Homo sapiens: one gene and its partners. The protein of the gene in region 1 interacts with the protein of each later gene in a pairwise test. Each region holds a gene or a part of one and is shown in the gene's direction. Other genes may lie near its edges.

Region 1 (7,025 bases):
TATTGTATGATAATTTAAAAGATATATATTACAAGTATTGTATATCTTGATATTATAATTAGCGGTTGGCTTCATTTACTACTAATTCACTATTCATAGTAAATATCATCCTTGACCATGCAAATACTAAATGCAATTTTGTATCATATAAATTTAATGCTATAGTGTATATTGATCAAAAATGTATAAGAAATGGATATTTTCTTTCTATAAGCGATAGCAGCCAGAGAAACACAGTAAGTAGCATTGTCTTATTTCTTAAGATTTAAAAGACCTATAATATCTTTAAGCCTACACAGCTCAACTTTGAGTTCCCAAATCCTAAGTGGTCCCTAATCAATATTGTAATGATATTTTTTGAACTATTTTCTACATCCAAAATAAATCTAATGAATTTTTGACAATAATGGTCATTAGACTACAAGTCTGCATAGGGTAAATACGATATCCCTTGCTTTGGGCTGCAGTTTTATCAGCTTATTAAATTAGTGCTGATTATCTCATGCTTACTGGAGGCATTTATTGATAGTATGTCTTTGAATGATAAACATAAAAATATATTTCTAATATTATTTGATACAAGAAGTTTGCTGAATAAAAATCTTTTAAAATATTCTCAAGAAAATTTATAAAATGCCTTTGGGGCAGTAAAATTGCAAAGGATCATTGCTTTTTTTTGTTCAAGTTATAATCTAATTATCAGAATGAATGACTCCATTAGACACTTCAACAACAACATAATTTAATATGCCATAGATTTTGGAGGCAGAATGCTATAATATTTGTATATTTTGGTTGAGGTATAGATACTTGACCTTCACTGTATTCATAGTTTTGTCTAGTTCATCATAATACAATGTGGACGTTTACATTTAATTTCTTTTTCTCAAAGATAACCTTTGGAGGCATCCCTTTCTCTGGCAAGCCCAGCTCCAGCAGTAGAAAGAATTTCAAAGGCTGCATGGAAAGCATCAACTACAATGGCGTCAACATTACTGATCTTGCCAGAAGGAAGAAATTAGAGCCCTCAAATGTGGTAAGGATTTTCACCCGCAAAATATTGGTCTATAAAATATCAAGTAACATTTTTGTTTTTTGGATTATTGAACAACAACAAAATCATGACATTTTTCATCATATTTGTGTTTGGGCAAAATGATGTAAAACAAACATTAGAGTTATCAGAATTAGTATAGATACTTGCTATTCTTTGAGAATAGCTAATGGGACTAGCTTGAAGTAGGTGGTTGGTTTTATTCCCACGGAGCACAGAATGTTAGACTCAATATTTCTGGATGACTCGTGGCACGTGCTTCATCCCAGCAGTTAGCAGCCCTTAAACCGGCAGCATCGTGTTTTCAAATATCTCATCACATGTGCTCTAAGTTACTTGCTTATGGTTTAATTTAATATTTTTAAAGTTTTTAAATCAGGGACTTTATTATATTTACTCCTGTGCTTCCAAAGATGATTTGTTTGAATATGTAAATAAATACACTTTTTAGCAAATCTCTAACCAGACTAAATATTACACAGTTAAATAAAGCTTGATTTCCACTGCATAGCCAAAGCTGTGCCACAGAAGTTCACAGTGATTTTTTTCTGCCTTTTGTGTGAGTTGGTGCCAGGTTTCATTAGATTTTGGAAGGAGAGCAAAAGTCAAAGAAAGCCCCAGCACACATGCTTCCAAACGACACTACTCCACATCCCTAAAAGACACTTAGTTTGCAATTTTAGTATGAGAGTTCCCTATGGCTCTGCAAGACCAGGAGCTGCTTTAGCCCAGAGAGGCTATTTGGGAGAGCTTAGAATTCCAGAGACCCATACAATAAGAAGATATTATGCACTATAAGTACAATAATGTCATGAGTGTTTGCACTGTGCTCCAAAAGAGCTCTGATGGTCTCGTTGCCTCAAATTTGAGCCCAGGGTTTCATAAAATGATTTGACAAATGGAAATCCCTGAATGAATAAACAGTTCAGGTTGAATATGGAAGGTTTAAAACAATAACTTCATGCAAATGATTATTTAATAAATAATTTTCTTAAAGTAATCATAAATTTATACTAGAAATTAAAACTTGAACTTTGGTTAAATTTTCTCATAAAGTATATTGACTATGGAAAAATAATAATAGCTCCATTTATAGGCAACAGGTATTGTGCTAGGCAAGTCGTATTTTATATTTAGGATGATCTGAGAACAATACTGCAAGAAGGATACAAACATTTTGTAGATGAAAACATTGCGATTTAACATGGAAAAAATAAGTTATTTTATGAGAAAAATAACTTTTATTTTATGAGTAGGAGATAAAAAGATAGATGTATAGCCTGGTATAGTGGGTTGCTGCTGTAATCCCAACACTGTGGGAGGCCAAGGCAGGAGGATCACTTGAGTCCAGGAGTTTGAGACCAGCCTGGGCAACATAGTGAGACCATGTCTCTACAACAAGTTAAGAAAATTAAAATTAAAAAAATAAATCAAATTGAATTAAAAAATTAGCTGGGCATAATGGTGCATGCATGTAGTCCTAGCTGCTTGAGAGGCTGAGGTAGGAGGATCACTTGAGCCCACAAGTTTGAGGCTGCAGTGAGCCATGATTGAACTACTGCATTCCAGCCTGGGCAACAGACTGAGACTCTGTCCCCCCAAAAATAAAAGAATAAAAAAAGATTATGGATTCACAATATGTGAGTTTGATTATGCTCTATAATTACATTTTATTTTAACAAATAATTGCAGTGAGAAAACATAGAATAAACTTTTGAATCAAAATATACATACATACAGAAAATCTTAGATGGGATAGAGACAAATAGGACATTTTGCAAGCAACCCTGCAAAGACAAGTGTTTATATAAGAAATGTACTTTCAAAGATGTTGGGTGCTGGTATTTCAGTGAAATTGACTGAGCACTCATTCTACCTCCTCTTCCCCCACATACTCATTCCCTCATTATGCATTGACTCCAAAGTCAGCACCGTTACTCTGGAAGGATCTTTAATTTTGCTAGGGAGACAATCCCCTCAAAAGAGGTATGTGGTCAGTTATAAAATCTCAATTATTATGCATAGGCAGTTCTTTTTATCAGTAAAAGCGAGCATTTAAAAATAATCATCTGTGATGGTACAGAGCAAATTTAATTTGAATATTAATTCAGAGAGACTGCCTGCCTTAGATTTAATGGTTATTGTGCTAAAATGGAAGAAATCAGCATCAGGTATATATATATATACACATATATATATGTGTATATATATGTGTGTATATATATGTATATATGTGTATATATACACACACATATATATACCATATACATATATATACCATATACATATACATGTACCATATACATATATATGTACCATATACATATACATATACCATACACATGTATACCATATACATATACATATACCATACACATGTATACCATATACATATACCATATACATATATATGGTGTTGTTAAAAATATATAGAGAAAAAGAGAGACAGACATAGAGATAGAACCAATGAAAATATCATCCAATTACATTCCTTAAAATATTATGATAGGATAAAAGAAGTTAGAAGCAAATACAGATTTTTAGACCTGTAAAGAGAATGTAGTTAGGCACTGAAATATACAATTTAGTGTATCTGAATGATAAATATTTTTTTCTTTTTTTTCTTTTGCTTATACCAAGGAGGAGGAGTATAGAAGGGGAGGGGAAAGCCTGAATTATTGCAAATTTTATCTCCATTTAGCCCATTTATAGTGCTAGTTATACAGGAATTAATGCATTGTGATATAAGCACAATTCATGGGAATTTAAATGGGATTTTGAGTTGGATACTAAAATAATCTCCAACAACCACAATTACATTAATGCTGAAAACTTAATATCTATCTATCTATATATGCATATACAAGGTATATAGATAAAAATCCAAATATATTTCCCTAAAATATCAGTTTCATAAATTGCAAACATATGACCATAGTCCCCACTGAGACCAGAGTAATATGTTAATTAATGTTGGCATTGACCACCCAGAATAGGACAGAGCATCTCTCTCCCTGACTTATGTTCGGCCAGCAGTAGCTTTGCTGTCTTCAGAAAGTCTAGTGATCCACAGTCACACCCACAACACACATACACACTTTACAACTCATGGTCAGCCTATCACATCAGGCTGTCTGGCTGTCAATCCCATGGTGGAAGCTGCTTGTTATAGTTAGACAGCCAACTGCTGCTCAGTAGTAGGTCTTACACTCCAAGTAGATCCGTAGTGGTGCATCCAGTCACTGAATCCATGCTCTGCTGCTGTGTGTGAGTTTAGCTTAGGCTCAGGCTGTGCTTCAAAACTTGTAGAACTATACTTTCATCAGTGGTCTGACATGGATGTTCATTTTATTCTGTGTTTTCCTCAGAGCCTGTCTTTCTATTTTACAGGGAAATTTGAGCTTTTCTTGTGTGGAACCCTATACGGTGCCTGTCTTTTTCAACGCTACAAGTTACCTGGAGGTGCCCGGACGGCTTAACCAGGACCTGTTCTCAGTCAGTTTCCAGTTTAGGACATGGAACCCCAATGGTCTCCTGGTCTTCAGTCACTTTGCGGATAATTTGGGCAATGTGGAGATTGACCTCACTGAAAGCAAAGTGGGTGTTCACATCAACATCACACAGACCAAGATGAGCCAAATCGATATTTCCTCAGGTCAGTGAAACCTATTTGACATTTGTTCCTGAAACTTATTGCAATTTCCAGAGTTAATGTTGTGCTTTGTTTGGTTTTGCTGGTGTTACACGCTCAGGATTAGGTTTTAATTCAGATCTTCAAGACGCTTACTTGGTTGTAGTGTGTGCTGATTGAATAAAGAAAACTTGGAAAGTTGTTGAGAGAGCAAGGCATGGGTGAAGGAGAAAATTGGTTGAGATTGGAAAAGCAAAATCTATTCCTTACCAATGCTAGTTTATTTTTAATAGATAAATTGCTCTTCTTTTAAGTGAATAATTTATGTTTAAAAACAAGGAATGTTTATTTTAAAAACACAATTGTATCTGGTATCTTTTCTCTTTATCAACATTCGTGTACCTTTTACTATTAGTAACAAGATTATACTAATTTTAACTTTAAGGAATATTCCACTGCTGGAATCAGAACTTCAAAATGATCTTGCTAAAATTATGCAAATGGTTGGAAAAGAAAACGAAAGTGAATATAAAGGTGGAATGACAAGATTTGTGTATCAACTGACGGAAGACTGGCTTAGGCAAAAATAGGATAATTTTAAATTTGGCTTTGTAGTGATATGACAAATAGAGGCTTAGGTAATATTCTTGTTATTTGAATAGACTTCGCAACCTTGGAAGTTCTTTGATAAATACAGTACAAAGAAAGGTGACATTGTAAATTGTGATGTTATAAGCAAAGAAAAATTAGTCTCAATATTGGACTGATAAATAGTAACTGTTTTCATCTATTTTTCTTGAGATAGTCTTTGCAATAGTCATACATATATATTGTGAAGAACTACTTAGAAATGGGAGATACAAAGAAAACTAACATTTACTGAACACTTAGTACAGATGTAGCAGATACTGAAAGGAGTCATGACAGAGAGCTCAATTGGGTGACCATGGACTCTGATTTCTGAATATGCCATATACTCTCATGGCACCCTATGCATATACCTGACACGGTTTCTAACACACTATGATTTTTGTCCCTCTCTTTTCCCCTCTAGGCTCCATGCTCCTTGACAGCAGGGACCATGCTCCTTTTTCTTCTGTCTCTGGCATATAGAATAGTACCTGTAAGAGGTGCTCTCCAATATTTGTTGAATTCAATACTCTGACCCCTTTCAACTAACAGAATATCCCCTGCTATAGAACATATATATTTTCTTGTAAAATAGGCTTTATGTTTGTGTGTGGCCTGAATGTATGGTCTATTACTGAAAAGGATTCAAGGAAGCCACAAGAAATGTTATGTCAGAGATGTGCCTAAATTATTGAAATCAAAGGTATTGGGAAATACCTAGTTATTCACTTTCTCCATTTCTGCTTTATTAGTTTTGCTTTTTCCTTGAATGTCTAGTCAAAATGATTAATCAACCATATTTTATCACTACATTCGTTTATAAGTATACCTAGGGAGGTTTACAGCAAATCGAAAATATCTGGAGAGACCAGAAAAACAGATAAAACAAAAACAAAAGCAAATGTTTGCCACAGTTGAAAAACTCCCACATTATATTGTTATGATTAATGATTATTGCCTAATGACTAAACATAAAAATATTAGTATGAAGGCCTGTCTCCTTGCAGTCTCTGAGCAAATCCGATTTGCTGGTGGGTTTCCATGTAACAGGAGCCAATATATTTGAAAGGATAAGATATTAACCCTAGTGGTCAATAAACATGTATTAATTTGATTTGGTGTAATTTAGTACTCCAAGATACTCTCACCTAATTTAAGCTGTGTTTATTTTGAAAATTAAAGATAGAATGAACAAAGAAATCCAATACATGACAGTTAATTCACCTTAATAGATTTGCTTAAACCTAATAAAAATGGACTGAAGAGTTTTTGTCAATTTAGCCAAGAATCTGTGCAAATTAATTGAAAAGATATAAAATCTAAAGATTTCCGTAGTATTACCCTTCTATAATCCAGTGAAAATACCTTACTGCTTCAAGCATTTTATATAAATATATATATATACAGACATACATACACACATACATACATAGTGGAAACTAAGTGCTCATATTTGAGAAACATTAGTTGAAAAAAAAATTCAACCATTTAAAAAAGTTATATTTTATATTCATTCATTCAATCTAAAAGTACATATGGAAACCATAGGACATAATTTCCTCTGTCTTTTAATGTATTTTATCAAATTCAATTAAATGTGTAAATAAGTTAGTAAAGTGGCAACACTGAGAAAACAGTTAAGTCAGGATTCTAATGTTTGCTTTAACAAAGGGAAATATATCTGTATCACAGCTATTCTACTCTTATCAG
Region 2 (7,025 bases), on another chromosome or scaffold:
AGGCCCAAATCACAGATAATTTTTGGTAGATCTAGAACCAGAACCCAAGTTTTCTATTTAGAATTCTTCATATCTTTCACTATTGTTTTCTCTCTTAGGCTCTACTTATCTGAAAATTTTAGTTAGAAATCAACTAGATAAGCAGCAGATTGGGAACATTGTGAATGATTCCAGTTTTTTAAACAGTTTTATTAAAGTCTAATGGATTTATAATAAACTGCACATATTTGACATTTACCATTTGATAAGTTTTATCATCTGTATATACCTGTGAAACCATCACCACAATCAAGATTAATGAATACATTCATCACCTTCTGAAAGTGTCCTCTGTACCACTCCCCACAAGTCCCCCACCCCACCCCTAATCCCTGTGCCAGACAACCACTGGTCTGCTTTTTGACACTAGAGATTGTTTTACATTTTCTAGAGTTTTATATAAATGGAATCACACAATATGTACTCTTTTTTTGGTCTGATTTCTTTCATTCAGCATAATTATTTTGAGATTTATCCATGTTGTAGCATGTATCAGTAGTTCATTCCTTTTCATTGTAGGATAGTATCCATTTTATGGATACACCACAGCTTGTTTATCCATTCACCTGTTAATCAACATTTTGATTGTTTCCAGTTTTTTGTTATTACAAATAAAGCTGCTGTAAACATTTGTGTACAACTTTTTATATGGACATATGCTTTAGTGATTCTAATTTGTTTCATTACCTTATAGCTGGAATACTACAAGCAAGGAAAAACAGAAGAGTTTGTAAAATTGTTGGAAGCAGCACGTATAGATGGCAATTTGGACTATAGAGACCATGAAAAAGACCAGATGACTTGCTTGGATACATTGGCAGCGTATTATGTACAACAGGCTCGGAAAGAAAAGAATAAGGACAATAAAAAGGATCTTATTACACAGGCCACCTTGTTGTATACAATGGCCGATAAAATTATTATGTATGATCAGGTAAAAATAAAGTCAAATTTCTTTCCATTTATGAAGGGAGAAAAGCACATGAAAGCAAAATGTGTGTGATAGCAGATTTTTTGAAAGAGTTTTTCTTCAAGTAACATGGTTGATAGAGTCAAAAAGAAGAAAGGTTCCTCATTAAAATCGGAATGCTTTGGTTTTTGTACTGTTTAAGTAATATGGACAAATGTAGTACATAAAACTTGCTCCAGTAATTTTATTATCTCCAGGTGAATTTCAAGGATATTTTAAGGAATTTAAATTTTTCTTTTGGTTGTTGTTATTGGCACAGAAGACTTACATTTCAGGATAATTTCTTATTTTGTAATTAAGAATTGCTTGTTAGTAGCTTAAGCACGTTACATTTGATAGGGGAATTTGCACTGTGCTCCACCTCCTTCCTATTTGGTTTTCACTTTAGTGTTACATGTTCATGGTATATAGGGGTAAAATCTAAGATAATACATTACTTCATAGAACCATTTGTTGGGAAGAGCCTGCTTCTGCCTACTTGAGGGTGACAAAATGGATCAAGCTGATGCACAGTTTCATTTTGTACTCAATCAGTCTCCAAATAATATTCCAGCCCTTCTTGGTAAGTGGTCTTTGGCAACATGTTAGGAAACAGTTGTTTTCAGCATATGCCTAGAATATATCTCTTGGTAATAGCTCCTTAATAACTCAGCTAGACAGCAAAGTAGAAGAGCTTTATGTTGTTACAAATGAAATTACCTACAACAAATATTGTTGAAATTGTAGAAATAAAATATATACCAGTTAAGAATAATTTATTATTTAGGCCAGGCATGGTATAATCTCAGCACTTTGAGACCCTGTCTCGTTATACCTGTAATCCCAGCGCTTTGAGAGACTGAGGCAGGAGGATCACTTGAGGCCAGGAGTTCAAGACGAGCTGGGGCAACATAGCAAGACCCCATCTCTACAAAAAATAATTTTTTCAAAAAAGAGTAATTGGTTATACACTTCTGAAGAGCCAATAAACAATCTCTACTTAGACAACTTAAAGTTATTTCAATTATTACTTTATAACATTTTTTAAACTTTTATTGAAGTTCAGTGGTACAAGTGCAGGTTTGTTACATAGGTAAACTTGGTCATGGGGGTTTGTTGTGCAGGTTATTTCATCACTTAGGTATTAAGCCTAGTACCTATTAGTTATTTTTCCTGATCCTCTTCCTCCTCCCACCCTCCACCCTCCAAAAGGCCCCAGTATGTGATGTTCCCCTCTGTGTCCATGTGTTCTCATCATTTAGCTCCCACTTATAAGTGAGAACAGGCAGTATTCAGTTTTCTGTTCCTATGTTAGTTTGCTAACTTTATAACATTTAACATAAAAATAGGAAGTTTTATTTTTAGACATAAATTAGTATACTTTTATGAAAAACAAATTTTTAATATGAAATTTTGTTCTGTGTTTTCAAGTATTTCTCACTCAGAGATGTATTTAACTTAGATAAGTTAGTGTAAAACATAATAGACTTGTAGCCTTTAATCAGACACTGTGTTTATTTTTAAAAATCATTACAGGTAAAGCTTGCATTTCCTTCAACAAGAAGGATTACAGAGGAGCTCTTGCTTACTATAAGAAAGCATTGCGTACTAACCCAGGATGTCCAGGTAAGAGAAAAATTTTATTTTATGTCTAAACTGTGTATTACCCAGCTTAAAGCATTGAGGATTTGTCAGTTGCTTATGAAGTTATGAAAAGATATTGTTGGATTATAGAAATGTCAGAATCAAGTTTTTTTTTTGATGCTATGTTTGAGTCAAAAGCTGGATAGTAAGGCCAGGTGCAATGGCTCATGCCAATAATCCCAGCACTTTGGTAGGCAGAGGCAGGACTACTTGAGCCCAGGAGTTTGAGACCAGCCTGGGCAACGTAGTAAGACCCTGTCTCTACAAAAAATAAAAAAGTTACATGAGCATGGTGGCACACACCTGTGGTCCCAGCTCCTTAGGAGGCTCAGGCTGGAGGATCGCTTGAGTCTGGGAGGTTGAGGCTGCAGTGAGCCATCATTGTGCCATTGCATTCCAGCCTGGGCAACAGAACAAGACCTTGTCTCAAGGGGAAAAAAAAATAGATAGGGTCTGGCTGCACTGGTTCACACCTGTAATCTCAGCACTTTGGGAGGGTGAGGTAGAAGGATTGCTTGAGCCCAGGAATTTGAGACTAGCCTTTGCAACAAAGGGAGACCCCCATCTCTACAGAAAATCAGCCGCACATGGTAGTGCTTGTGGTCGCACCTACACAAGAGGCTAGGCAGGAAGATCACTTGAGCCTAGGCATTTGAGGCTGCAGTGAGCCATGTTCATGCCACGGCACTCCAGCCTGGGCAACAGAGCCAAGACCCTGTCTCAAGAAAAAAAAAGTCTGGATAGTAGATTATAATATAATCTTTTTGCCCTATACTATTTTTCTTTCCAAAATGTCATTCATGTAGCAAATTTTTACTGAGTACCAACTATGTGGCAGGCAGTGTTCTAAACCCTGAGAATGTAGCAATTAACCAAAGAGACAAAAGTTCCTGCCCTCATGGAGTCCAGTTTTCAGTGGGCAAGATAAATAGTAAAGTATGTATGATGTGTAAGCTACCAGTAAGAGCCAAGGAGAAGAATAAAGCAGAAAAAGGGTATGAGAAGCATCAGGAATTGCTTAGAAAGGATGACCAAGGAAACTCATCAGAGATAGTGACATTTGTGTGAAGACCTAAAAAACAACTAGCAGCCATGCAGATATATAGGAGAAGACCACTCCTAGAGAGAGAGCATAGAAGGTACAAAGGTCCAGAGGAAAGAGAGTGCCTGGTAAGTTTAAGGAAGAGTAAGGAGGCCATTGTTTCTGGAATAGAGAGAGAAAGAGTTGGGGGGAAAGTAGTAAGAAATGGGGTCAAAGCTATAACCAGGGACTGACTAATCACGTAGGGCATCACAGATTATTGTAAGGACTTTAGTTTTTACATCGACAGAGATGGGAAGCCATTGGAGGGCCTTGGGCAGCAGAGTGACGTGATCTGACCTATATTTAAAAGGTTCGTTTGAGCTTTGGGGTTGAGACTAGAGTGGGGCTCAAGGGGAGGGGGTCAAGGACAGAAGTAGGGAGAGCAGGGAGAAGGCATCTGCAGACAGGCAGGTCAGAGGTGATTGTGGCTCACACTAGGGAGGTAATAGTGGAGTTGGTACAAGTGGTCAGATTCTACATGTATTTTGAAAGGAGAGCTGATGGAGTACCTATGATGTATAAGACAGAGAGGAAGAGTCAAAGATAACTCCCTTGCACAAGCAATTGGAAAAGTAGAGTTATATTTTACTATATTTGGGAAATAGTTTAAGTGGAACTAGTTTTAGACCTGAAAAGTTTGAAATACCTTTTAGACATATAAGTTGTCAAATTAAGCAGTTCAGCCTTAAAGCTTTTAGAGCTTTATCCTGAGCCTTGAGAAGAATGTGGCTATACAACCTGAGTCACGTGGCATGCAGTTGCAATTTCTGCCTTTTTTTTTCTGTAAACAATTAAGATCAAATGGTGCCAGAAATAAGATCCCCCTCACATGGAGCAATAAAATAATCTTTTTAGAATATAGCAATTTGTAACCAATCAAATTGCTGTGACATAGGCACCTGGTGTTATATTTTAGAATGTTACAATCCTACTAGAACTTCTCTATTTCCCCCAAATAATTAAAACCTTAACTTTTTCACTTTGGAAAATGCTGATATCATTCATTTGGAGTCAGTACTTTTCTGGTGGCCATTCTTACACCTTGCACTCCAATACACTCTATACTTAATCATATTTTCCAAATCCCGTTATTTAAAATTGACAAAGTGAAGACAGCAGAAAGGCTGGAATTCAGGAAAGAGGTCTGGGCTGAAGTCATCAACATATAGATAGTGTATAAAGCTGTGAATGAGTGCAAATAGAAAAGAGGTCTAGAGGTGGAGCCCTAGAGCACTCTGATATTAAGAGATTAGGGAAATGAGGAAGAATCAGCAAAGGAGACTGAGAAGATAATAGCCAGAGGTATAGGAGGAAAATAGGGTAAGTGCATTGTCTTTAAAGGCAAATGTAAAATGTTTCCAGAAGAAGATGATGACCAACAGTGTCAAATTCTGTTGTTAGGTCAAGTAAAATAGGGACACAGAATTGATCATTGGATTTAGCACCATACAAATCCATAGTGACCTTGATAAAAGCAGTTTTACTGGAATGGTGGGGTGAGAGCTTCACTGGAGTGTATTCAAGAGAAAATGGAAGGAAGGGAATTAGACATAGCAAGCGTAGCTAGATCATTCTGGGAGTTTTGCTATTGAAGAACAGACATGATCGACAACTGGAAAGGGATATAGAATCAAGAGAGGATTTGTATAAGATGGCAGAACGTTTATGTGTAGATGAGAATGAATGATCCAGTAGAGAGAAAAAATAGGGGAGGGTTGCTGGAGCAGTATTCTTAAATAGATAAGAGGGCATCTAGTGACCAGTATGGTGATTGGCTTTAGATGGGAACTTGTTTGTGTTTTGGCATGGCCTTAAATGAGGTAGCACATATGAGCATAGCTTTGAAAGGAACAATGGTATGTGCCCATAATCAGTCATATTATTTAAGGTCTTAGTGGAACTTTTGTTCTCTGTTTAAAAATTGTTCTTCAATAATGAGAAATTGAAGGTATGGTTAGCAGCGATGTTAGAAGACAAGAAGAATACCAGTATTATAGGTGTTCTGTTCTATAGTGAGAAATGTGTCAGTGATAGAGGAGAGGGTTGGAATATGGTATGATGTAGCCTCCAAGGAAACCAAGTTTGTGATAGGTCAAAAGATTCTGTAGTGTAGTTATACTGAGGTTAATTTTGGGGATTTTGCAACTCATAAATAGAGAATGTTTAAGCATTTTTGTAATTGAACTCTAAAAAATGCCCTAGTTTGATAGATTGAATGACTTCATTTTATAGCGGAAGTTCGTTTAGGAATGGGTCATTGCTTTGTGAAACTTAACAAACTGGAAAAAGCTCGTCTGGCATTCAGCAGAGCCCTGGAACTCAATTCCAAATGCGTGGGAGCATTGGTTGGACTGGCTGTTCTAGAACTCAACAATAAAGAGGTATGTAAATGAAAAAAGTATCTAGCTCCTAACTGCTTTGTCAGGCCCACAGCCTCTTATCTAAAACTCTTGGAGCCAGATGTGTCTTAGAAATTAAGATTACAGATTACAGAAGGGTACCTGTACTTTGTAATGTATAACACCTAGTTATTGGGGCACTACCCCAAAAGCAAACTTATATTTCTGTGGCAAAATGATAGACTGTTTACACTAGTAGGATAGGGTTACAATTCAGGTAGTATTGCCACCAAATAAGTTTGCTCCAAGATTACCAAAAAAAAAAAAACAGAAAACAAAACTTGTTTTTTAAGGCATTTAGATTTCAGAATCTCAGATAAGGGGTCGTAGACTTGTATATCAGTTTGGAATGCTTTCATTGCACGTAACAAAAAACACATCCCAGTGCCTTAAACATAAGGGCTTTTAGTGTTTACTAAACCAGTTGTCAAAGGTCTCAAATTTGATAGGTCCTTGTCGTCAAACCTATGATTTTATATAATTCCGTCCTCCCTTCCTTAATGTGCAGCCTTTCTTCATCATGTCTGTCACCTTATAGTCACAAGATGGCTGCAGCATCTCCAGCTTCTCATTATTACATCGGTCTTATAAAGAGGGAGGAAAGAGAAAGGATAAAAAGGCTTTCTCTTAGAGAAGCCCTGTCTTATATTGAGAAGGAAGCTCTCCATCATGCTTCCCCTTATGTATAATTGTCCAAAACAGGGATACCTGGGTTTCTCAGCCTCAGTACTATTGATGTTTTGGGCTGGATAATTCTTTGTTGTGGGGAACTGTCCCTTCCATTATAGAATGTTTTAACAGCATCCCGGGCCTCTACCCACTAAATGCCGATAGCGTTCCTCCAATTGTGATAACCAAACATGACTTCATCCCCAGTTGAGAACCACTACCTTAGGCCAGAGGAAAAGAT
Region 3 (7,064 bases), on another chromosome or scaffold:
ACCTTTCTGCTGTGGTAATTGCAGCTTAAAATATTAATTGGAAAAGGCCCGTTTTCCTTACTCTCCTGCTTTTTTGCCATATCGAGTATGTTAGAAATTGTTCTGGGAAGCCTGGAGAAGTGAGGAAACGGTGGGCGGAGCAGAGGAGAAAGAAAGGGAGTACATGCTGTGGAAAGCTGCACTGTTGCTGTAGTTTCCTTTCCCTTCACTGAGGTTTAATCACTAGTTGGAGGAAATTGGAATGTTTGAAGAAGGAGGGCCAGTGCAGGGTGGAAAAAGGAGGGGAAGACAGGAGAATTCAATAAGGCCAAGGGCAGTTTAGCAAAGCAATGCCCAGTAAATTGTACTATGGAACTCTGTAAGTGACTAGGGAGTCAGAGCCATCCAGGGCACATGACAAAATTGTCCTACTGTTTCTTTTGAAGATCTGCAGACAGGTTCTATACCAGACTGCCAGATTGGAAGCCTTCAGACTATTGTTTCTATAATTCCCTTCTTCCTAATTTTAGGGACAGAAGTGCCAGCTGGCCATTCATTTTCCAACAGCTTTCTTCATACCTCGACACCAGTCCTGATGACTCTGATCCCATACTCATGAAGCCGACCTCAAACTTACAAGCACGTTGAATCTGAGCTGAATTTATAGTTAAAGTGGCATGCTTTCACATATTTTTATAGACGCTGGAAGATGAGTACACCAGCTGGATCAGTCCTGAAAACATCAAAAGGCTGGATGATACAGGGAGGAAAAAGAGAAGGAACTCTGCTGAAAGAAATACCAAAACTCTTATTGTTCATGTGGTAGAAAAAGTAATGAATGAAGTCTTAAGACCTGGGGTCTAGCTGCAGCTTTCCCCTAACTAGTCACATGACCTTAAGCAAATTCTGTCCCTCCCTCACAGAATAATGAGTGGAATTCAACAATTCTTTCTTTTTCTTTTCTTTTTTTTTTTTTTTTTGAGACAGAGTTTTGCTCCCATTGCTGCCCAGGCTGGAGTGCAATGGTGCCATCTCGGCTTACCGCAACCACCTCCGTCTCCCAGGTTCAAGAGATTCTCCTGCCTCAGCCTCCTGAGTAGCTAGGATTACAGGCATGGGCCAGCATGCCCAGCTAATTTTGTATTTTTAGTAGACACTGGGTTTCTTCATGTTGGTCAGGCTGGTCTCGAACTCCCAACCTCCGATGATCTGCCTGCCTCGGCCTCCCAAAGTGCTGGCATTACAAGGAGTTCAATACTTTCTAAGATCCTTCAAACTTTCATATTTTCAAAACCATATATTTGTCAGCAAATACATATTAGATGTCTGCAATATGCCAAGCATTATATACCCACCTATAATAGTTTACTGCCTTTGTTTTTGAAGGACCACATTTCTCTTTGGTTACTCAATTTCCTCATGGTGAAATGCGACTAATGATGACTCTCCTGCTTATTTTAGAACACAGAGGGAAATTGTATCTGAAAGTGATTTGGAAAATCTAAAATGTTCTGCAGCAGCAGATACCTTTGACATATTCATTTGTATTGTGGGAACATATGTACAGGTTTTTCTCTTTGAGATAATAAGCAATAACCTGAAAATGCTCTGTTTTACTTGAAAATGTGTGAGATGCCTGATCCAGAGAGAAATTATCTTAATACTGTTCCAGAGTTGTGTTTGCATGTACACACAAAGCTGCTAATTAGATCACAGTAAATGCACAAAGTAACATTGTCTGCTTGAAGAATAAAGAATGTGTTCCATGAGAGCTTGCCTATTTTATTCACCATCACATTTATAATAGTAATATTTGTTGAAGGAATGAATGAGTGAAGCAATGAAAGAACGCAGATAGCAGAGATGTCTTTAGTTTTCTTTTCATTACCAATTTCAATTCTTGTGTTGTCTTCAATATTTAGGTATTTTCTTTGATACTTTTTCTTCTCCTCTGATTACCTCTAGAGGAGAGTATGTTGAAGCTCATTTTGACTCAAAATAATTTATGCTTAGGAATCAAAAGATGTTCGTGTTGCAAACACACATTCCTTAGAAATATTACTATTGTAATTGCTTCCTGAGATCATCTTTAATGTGTCCAATACATTATTCTGCTTTAGTTCTGTAGCACCTAACACAGGGTATGGCATTGAAAAAGTACTCAGTAATTCATGAATGATTTGGCCAATCCAATGGAATAACTGGTGTGAGTACCTGGGACAGAGGTGCATGACTAATAGGAGTATTGTGTAAGAAATGACACAGGGGTTCTGAAATTTTGCCACGGCATATTTAGTCATTTCCATTCAGTGTTAAGATGGTTGTCACCACACAAATAATATCTATTTGTTCACTGTAAATTTTCTCCAGGGTCCCTTCCCACCTTCAAATGCATTATTTTATTTTATTTTATTATTTTATTTTATTTTATTTTATTTTATTTTATTTTATTTTATTTTATTTTATTTTATTTTATTTTATTTTTTGAGGCGGAGTCTCGCTCTGTCGCCCAGGCTGGAGTGCGGTGGCGCAATCTCCGCTCACTGCAAACTCCGCCTCCTGGGTTCACGCCATTCTCCTGCCTCAGCTTTCTGAGTAGCTGGGACTGCAGGCGCCCAACACCATGCCCGGCTAATTTTTTGTATTTTTTGTATTTTTTTTTTTTTTTTTTTTTTTGAGTAGAGACGAGGTTTCACCGTGTTAGCCAGGATGGTCTCGATCTCCTGACCTTGTGATCCGCCTGCCTCGCCTGCCAAAGTGCTGGGATTACAGGCATGAGCCACCTCGCCCGGCCCCCACCTTCAAATGCATTAATCGGATTCCTTCAGTATTATGAAGAAAACATTATGAAGAGCCTTACCTGATGATAGTAATAACAACCGTAACCACTAAGTAGAGTCTATATTTATTAATAGCAATGTCATCTTCTCTAACAGTTGTCCAGTGTCCCAAGCCTGTCATAAGCTCTTTGAAGCTCTGTGAGAATGAGAGTTGTGTCTTATGCTCAGCACTTAAGATGGCTACTTAATTCAGATAGAAGAAGAATGTGGCTATTTGCAGGCAGAAGGCAACTTGATTCCTCACATGGTACTATATACTAAGACACCCTACACTCCCAGTTTTACACGTGGTAGTTCTAGCACGTTCCTTCATTTAAGGAGTCTCTTGAATTCCAAAATTTCCAGATTCCACCTGAATAAATGGCAGAGATGGCAACTGGACACAAAGTTATTTTACCCTGTTCCCTTCACATAAAAGGCAGGCTTGGGATCACTTAGGTTTGGGGGCATAAACATCCTCTCAGTGTCTGAGTACTAAAGAAATGATAAACTACTATCAATAGAAAAGTAACAGATCACTTAATTATCAATCAGTCTAATGGTGATTATTTTAAGACTTTTGCCACAAACTGAACTGCCCCAAAGCAAATCTCTCATGCAGTTTGGCCTTAATTTCTTTTACCCTTTTTTTTTTTTTGAGAGGTTATTATGCAGTGCTTTCCCGTTTAAAACACTGTTTCTACCAGGGAATATTAGGGGGTCTTCTGCATTACAGACTAAGCAATTCCGTCTTTTCTCAAGAAAAACTGCCATGTTACATCTGGACAAAAATGGAAACTTTAAAAAAAAACCTCACATCGTTTTATTTTCCTTTCTGTGTGTGTATTTTTTCCCACATAAGTATCTTATTATTTCCTAATCGAAGCTCATTCTTCTCTATGAGGCGCTGGCTTGGTATTTTCGCCTGACAAATCTCCCGGAGCAGATGGTCCCTTCAGGGAAGCTTCAGGAAAGTGCTGGGTGTCTAGTTATGCCTGGACCCTCCCTCCCTCTTGGGGCCCCAAATGACAAGTCATCAAACCAGTTTCTCTCCAGCAAGGGTCCTTGATCCGGTAGCAGCAGGTTTGGGTTTCAGGCACTGCAGAGACCCTTTGCAGTTGGGTTTAGCAGCTACCCAAGTCTGCAGCCTGCGCTGGTCCTGGGGGTGAGAGTGATATCCCTGTTGTCCAATCAGAGAAGCGGGTTTCCCTGTGGTCCCCGCCCCACTTTCCCTGCTGCCCCAATAACCGCCCTAAAAGGCCGGGCTTCTGCTGTCAAGTAGCCAGGGTGGGCTCCGCCGAGGCGAGGAGGGGCGCCGGTGGGGAGATGCGCTCCCAGGTGTTTGCAGCGGAAGTGGGAAACCTGTAGGGTATGGTCCAGCTGTGCCGCACCGAGGCGAGCAGGAGCAGGGAACAGGTAGGAAGCTGGACTTTTCCTTCTTTGCAGATAAAATAAAGAATGCGCATTTCCATGCTGTTGCTTCCCTTCCCCCAGCCCCGCCCAGCCCTCGTCACCCCCAAATCTCCTGTGGTCCCTGCAGCTCTCGCCGTGCGGCGCGGGAAGGACTGGGGCGGAGGTGGCTGGGGTGCGGGGAAGCAGGGGTGCGGGATGCCGGAGCCCTGGGGTGCCGGGCAAGGCAGGACGGCAGTGCCCTAGAAGAGGGCTCCGAGCTCGGGGTCTGTGTCTCGTCAACTTTCCTTTCGGAGGCTGCCGCCGCCAGCGCCGGGAACTCGCCCCAGGGATGCCATATCGCCTCGGCAGGGGAGGGGTGGGGAAGCAGAGAGGTCGGCAGCCCGGGGCCTGCAGGTCTTTTTCTCCCGACGCCGGCCCGCACCTGCTCATCTTTCCCATCCCACCTGGGCGCCTGGCTAGCGCATCCCGGAAAACCTGGGAGCGGTTGCGGAGAGGGGAGGAAGCGACTTGTTTGTCCCCTGACCCCTCTGTTAAGATCTAGCTCCCTTCAGGAGATGGGGGTGGGGAAGAATCCCTGCAACTCGAAGGGCACGTTCCGATTAATTACGTCTCCGTTGAGAAGGCACCGGCCCTTCTCCACGATCTGCGGCAGGTGGGAGGGAGAGACCGCGGAGCCACGGCCCCTTCCCTCCTAGCCTGGCGCTGTCTACGGGAACCACCTTCACACCTAGTTTCTGAAAGGTGGATTTGGCTTCAGGGATTTCCAGGGAGTCAAGTGATTGTGCCCGGATGGGCTCCGAGCGGCTGCGAGGCTGCCTCCCTAGGTGACCGCATCTGGGTAGTAGGTGTTGGCCCAGTGCCGGTTCCTGCAGGAGTCAGATTGCTGGGAGCAGTAGGCAGAAGAATTGCAGAGAGATCCGACGCTGCATCACCCTCTGGGACTGATGACACCCTGCTTTGAAAATTCCTGAAAAATTGGGATGATGGGAAAGAGGGAAAGCGGATAGCTGCGACCTTTCCTTATTTATTTATTTATTTTCATGCCAAACCGGGCATGGGTATTCGTACGTGTGCTTGTGTGTGCACATCTCCAAGGTGGAGCTATATATAGCTCCTGCATACCCAGCCCGGCTTCCCTGCTGCTGAGCCGGCTGCCTTGGCCTTCTCAAGCAATCTGGAAGCACTGAGTGGGCGGGGCAAAAGGGAATCCAATTCTCCATTGGGGGAAAAGCCGGAGAAGAAGCATTCAGACTGCTGAAACCCTGCGTGAAATAATGTTTTTGTAACTCACGTAAAGATCAATATTTCATATTTCATGTTTTCAATATGTCATATTTCATGTTTTCAATATTTCAGTATTTTGCAAACATTCTTAGAGTGCCAATATAATCTTCATCCATTTCGCCGCATTTTTCGGTTTCTAAGTGTACATATGAACCTTACCAGCCCGAAGTGTAACGCAAATCAAATTAATACATGCCGTATCTGGGATATTTTATTAGACTCGGCATAATGGTTTGGTTATTTGGTAGTAAATTTATTTCAGTGGTAACTTATGGCTAACAGCATTTGGGGATCTGGGAATGGATCCACCCACTTTCCAGGACTAAGGAACTGCTAGAACCCTTGCGGGGGTAGATGTGAGGTATTTCTTTGTACAGATTTTACATGTGGACCTGATATTTAAATTTGTACTGCTTTTTCATATCACATCTATTTGTACTATGTGAACTTTCTTTTATAGATTGATGTATGTGCATTTATCTTTGCCATTCCCTGAAATTACTTATTCCTGATGACAACCTTTCCATTTTCACAGATGAAGAAACTAAGATTCAGAAGACACAAGTGATTGGTTGAAAGTCTTCTGAAAACTTTAATATTCCAACAACCTGCCGTGTAATTATACTGCATAGCAGTTTCCCCTCAAATAGAATACTTTTTAGCTTCCCAGGATTTTTGGTCCTGGCAACAAAATGTGGTTAATGTTGATACCAGGAACAATATAAACCAAGTTTATTCGGTTCTAGTCTGACATGTATCCCTACAAAATTTAATTCTGTGTTTTAAGAACAAAATTCTAACTTGCCAAGTCATTTTGAAGATAAATTATTTAATCTACCAAGTTACCATCATAGGCAGTGCGAGCTGGCTTTTAATTTTGCTCTGCAACTTCCTGATGATCTGATTTGGAGCAAGATAATTAAACTCTGAGAATCTGTTTTCTTGTCTTCAAAAGGAATTTTATAGCATTGAAATTTCAGGTTGCTATGAGGGCCATAAAAAGCATGCATGTTTCTATCATGGGGATGGGCGCATAGTGGGTCATTAATAAACAGGGCTACTGGTAATAATAACAATACATAGGTATGTATCAACTAAATGCATTTTAAAATTCATGGTTCTAACAAAACGATCACTCCTCTTCAGAATCTCTAGTAGACTATTTTCACTTGGGAACTTAATCATACTTAGTCTTATTTTGTTGCTTAATCCTCATTTGTATGTCTGATTTGTTTTCTAATTAGGAAGTACTTTGCAGAAAAAGACTACACTTATAATCTTTTTGTATACCCCACCACATTGAACACAGTCCTATAATAAGTAGCCTTAAAGATTCTTGTTCAGGAAGCATCATCCTAAGAAGCTGGATGGGTGCAGCAATGATTTGGGGATATTTTTTTGGTAGAAGGCTATGCCTTGGGAGGAAACTTCCTCTGGCTTTATGATCCTCTCCATGAGGAGTAATGGATGACATAAGGTGTTTCTATATCTTTTCATAGAATGACTCGGTTCTACAGTAGGGATTATGACTATGTACTGGTTCTATGTATTCTCTTGTATCTTGTGTCC

Evidence for each region.
Region 2: the proteins of CNTNAP2 (region 1) and CTR9 interact in a two-hybrid assay, tested with the Homo sapiens proteins (one study listed by BioGRID and IntAct).
Region 3: the proteins of CNTNAP2 (region 1) and CNTN1 interact in binary tests that used the Homo sapiens proteins (3 or more experiments, as listed by UniProt).

The regions. Positions count from the first base shown.
Region 1 is NC_000007.14:147,127,801-147,134,825, forward strand, and holds part of CNTNAP2 (contactin-associated protein-like 2 precursor), read left to right. Parts: intron 1-892; coding exon 893-1,036; intron 1,037-4,444; coding exon 4,445-4,709; intron 4,710-7,025. UniProt on the Homo sapiens protein: Required for gap junction formation. Required, with CNTNAP1, for radial and longitudinal organization of myelinated axons.
Region 2 is NC_000011.10:10,754,225-10,761,249, forward strand, and holds part of CTR9 (RNA polymerase-associated protein CTR9 homolog), read left to right. Parts: intron 1-733; coding exon 734-973; intron 974-1,453; coding exon 1,454-1,571; intron 1,572-2,524; coding exon 2,525-2,614; intron 2,615-5,948; coding exon 5,949-6,097; intron 6,098-7,025. UniProt on the Homo sapiens protein: Component of the PAF1 complex (PAF1C) which has multiple functions during transcription by RNA polymerase II and is implicated in regulation of development and maintenance of embryonic stem cell pluripotency.
Region 3 is NC_000012.12:40,688,379-40,695,442, forward strand, and holds the start of CNTN1 (contactin-1 isoform 1 precursor), read left to right. Parts: upstream 1-4,060; 5' UTR 4,061-4,214; intron 4,215-7,064. UniProt on the Homo sapiens protein: Contactins mediate cell surface interactions during nervous system development.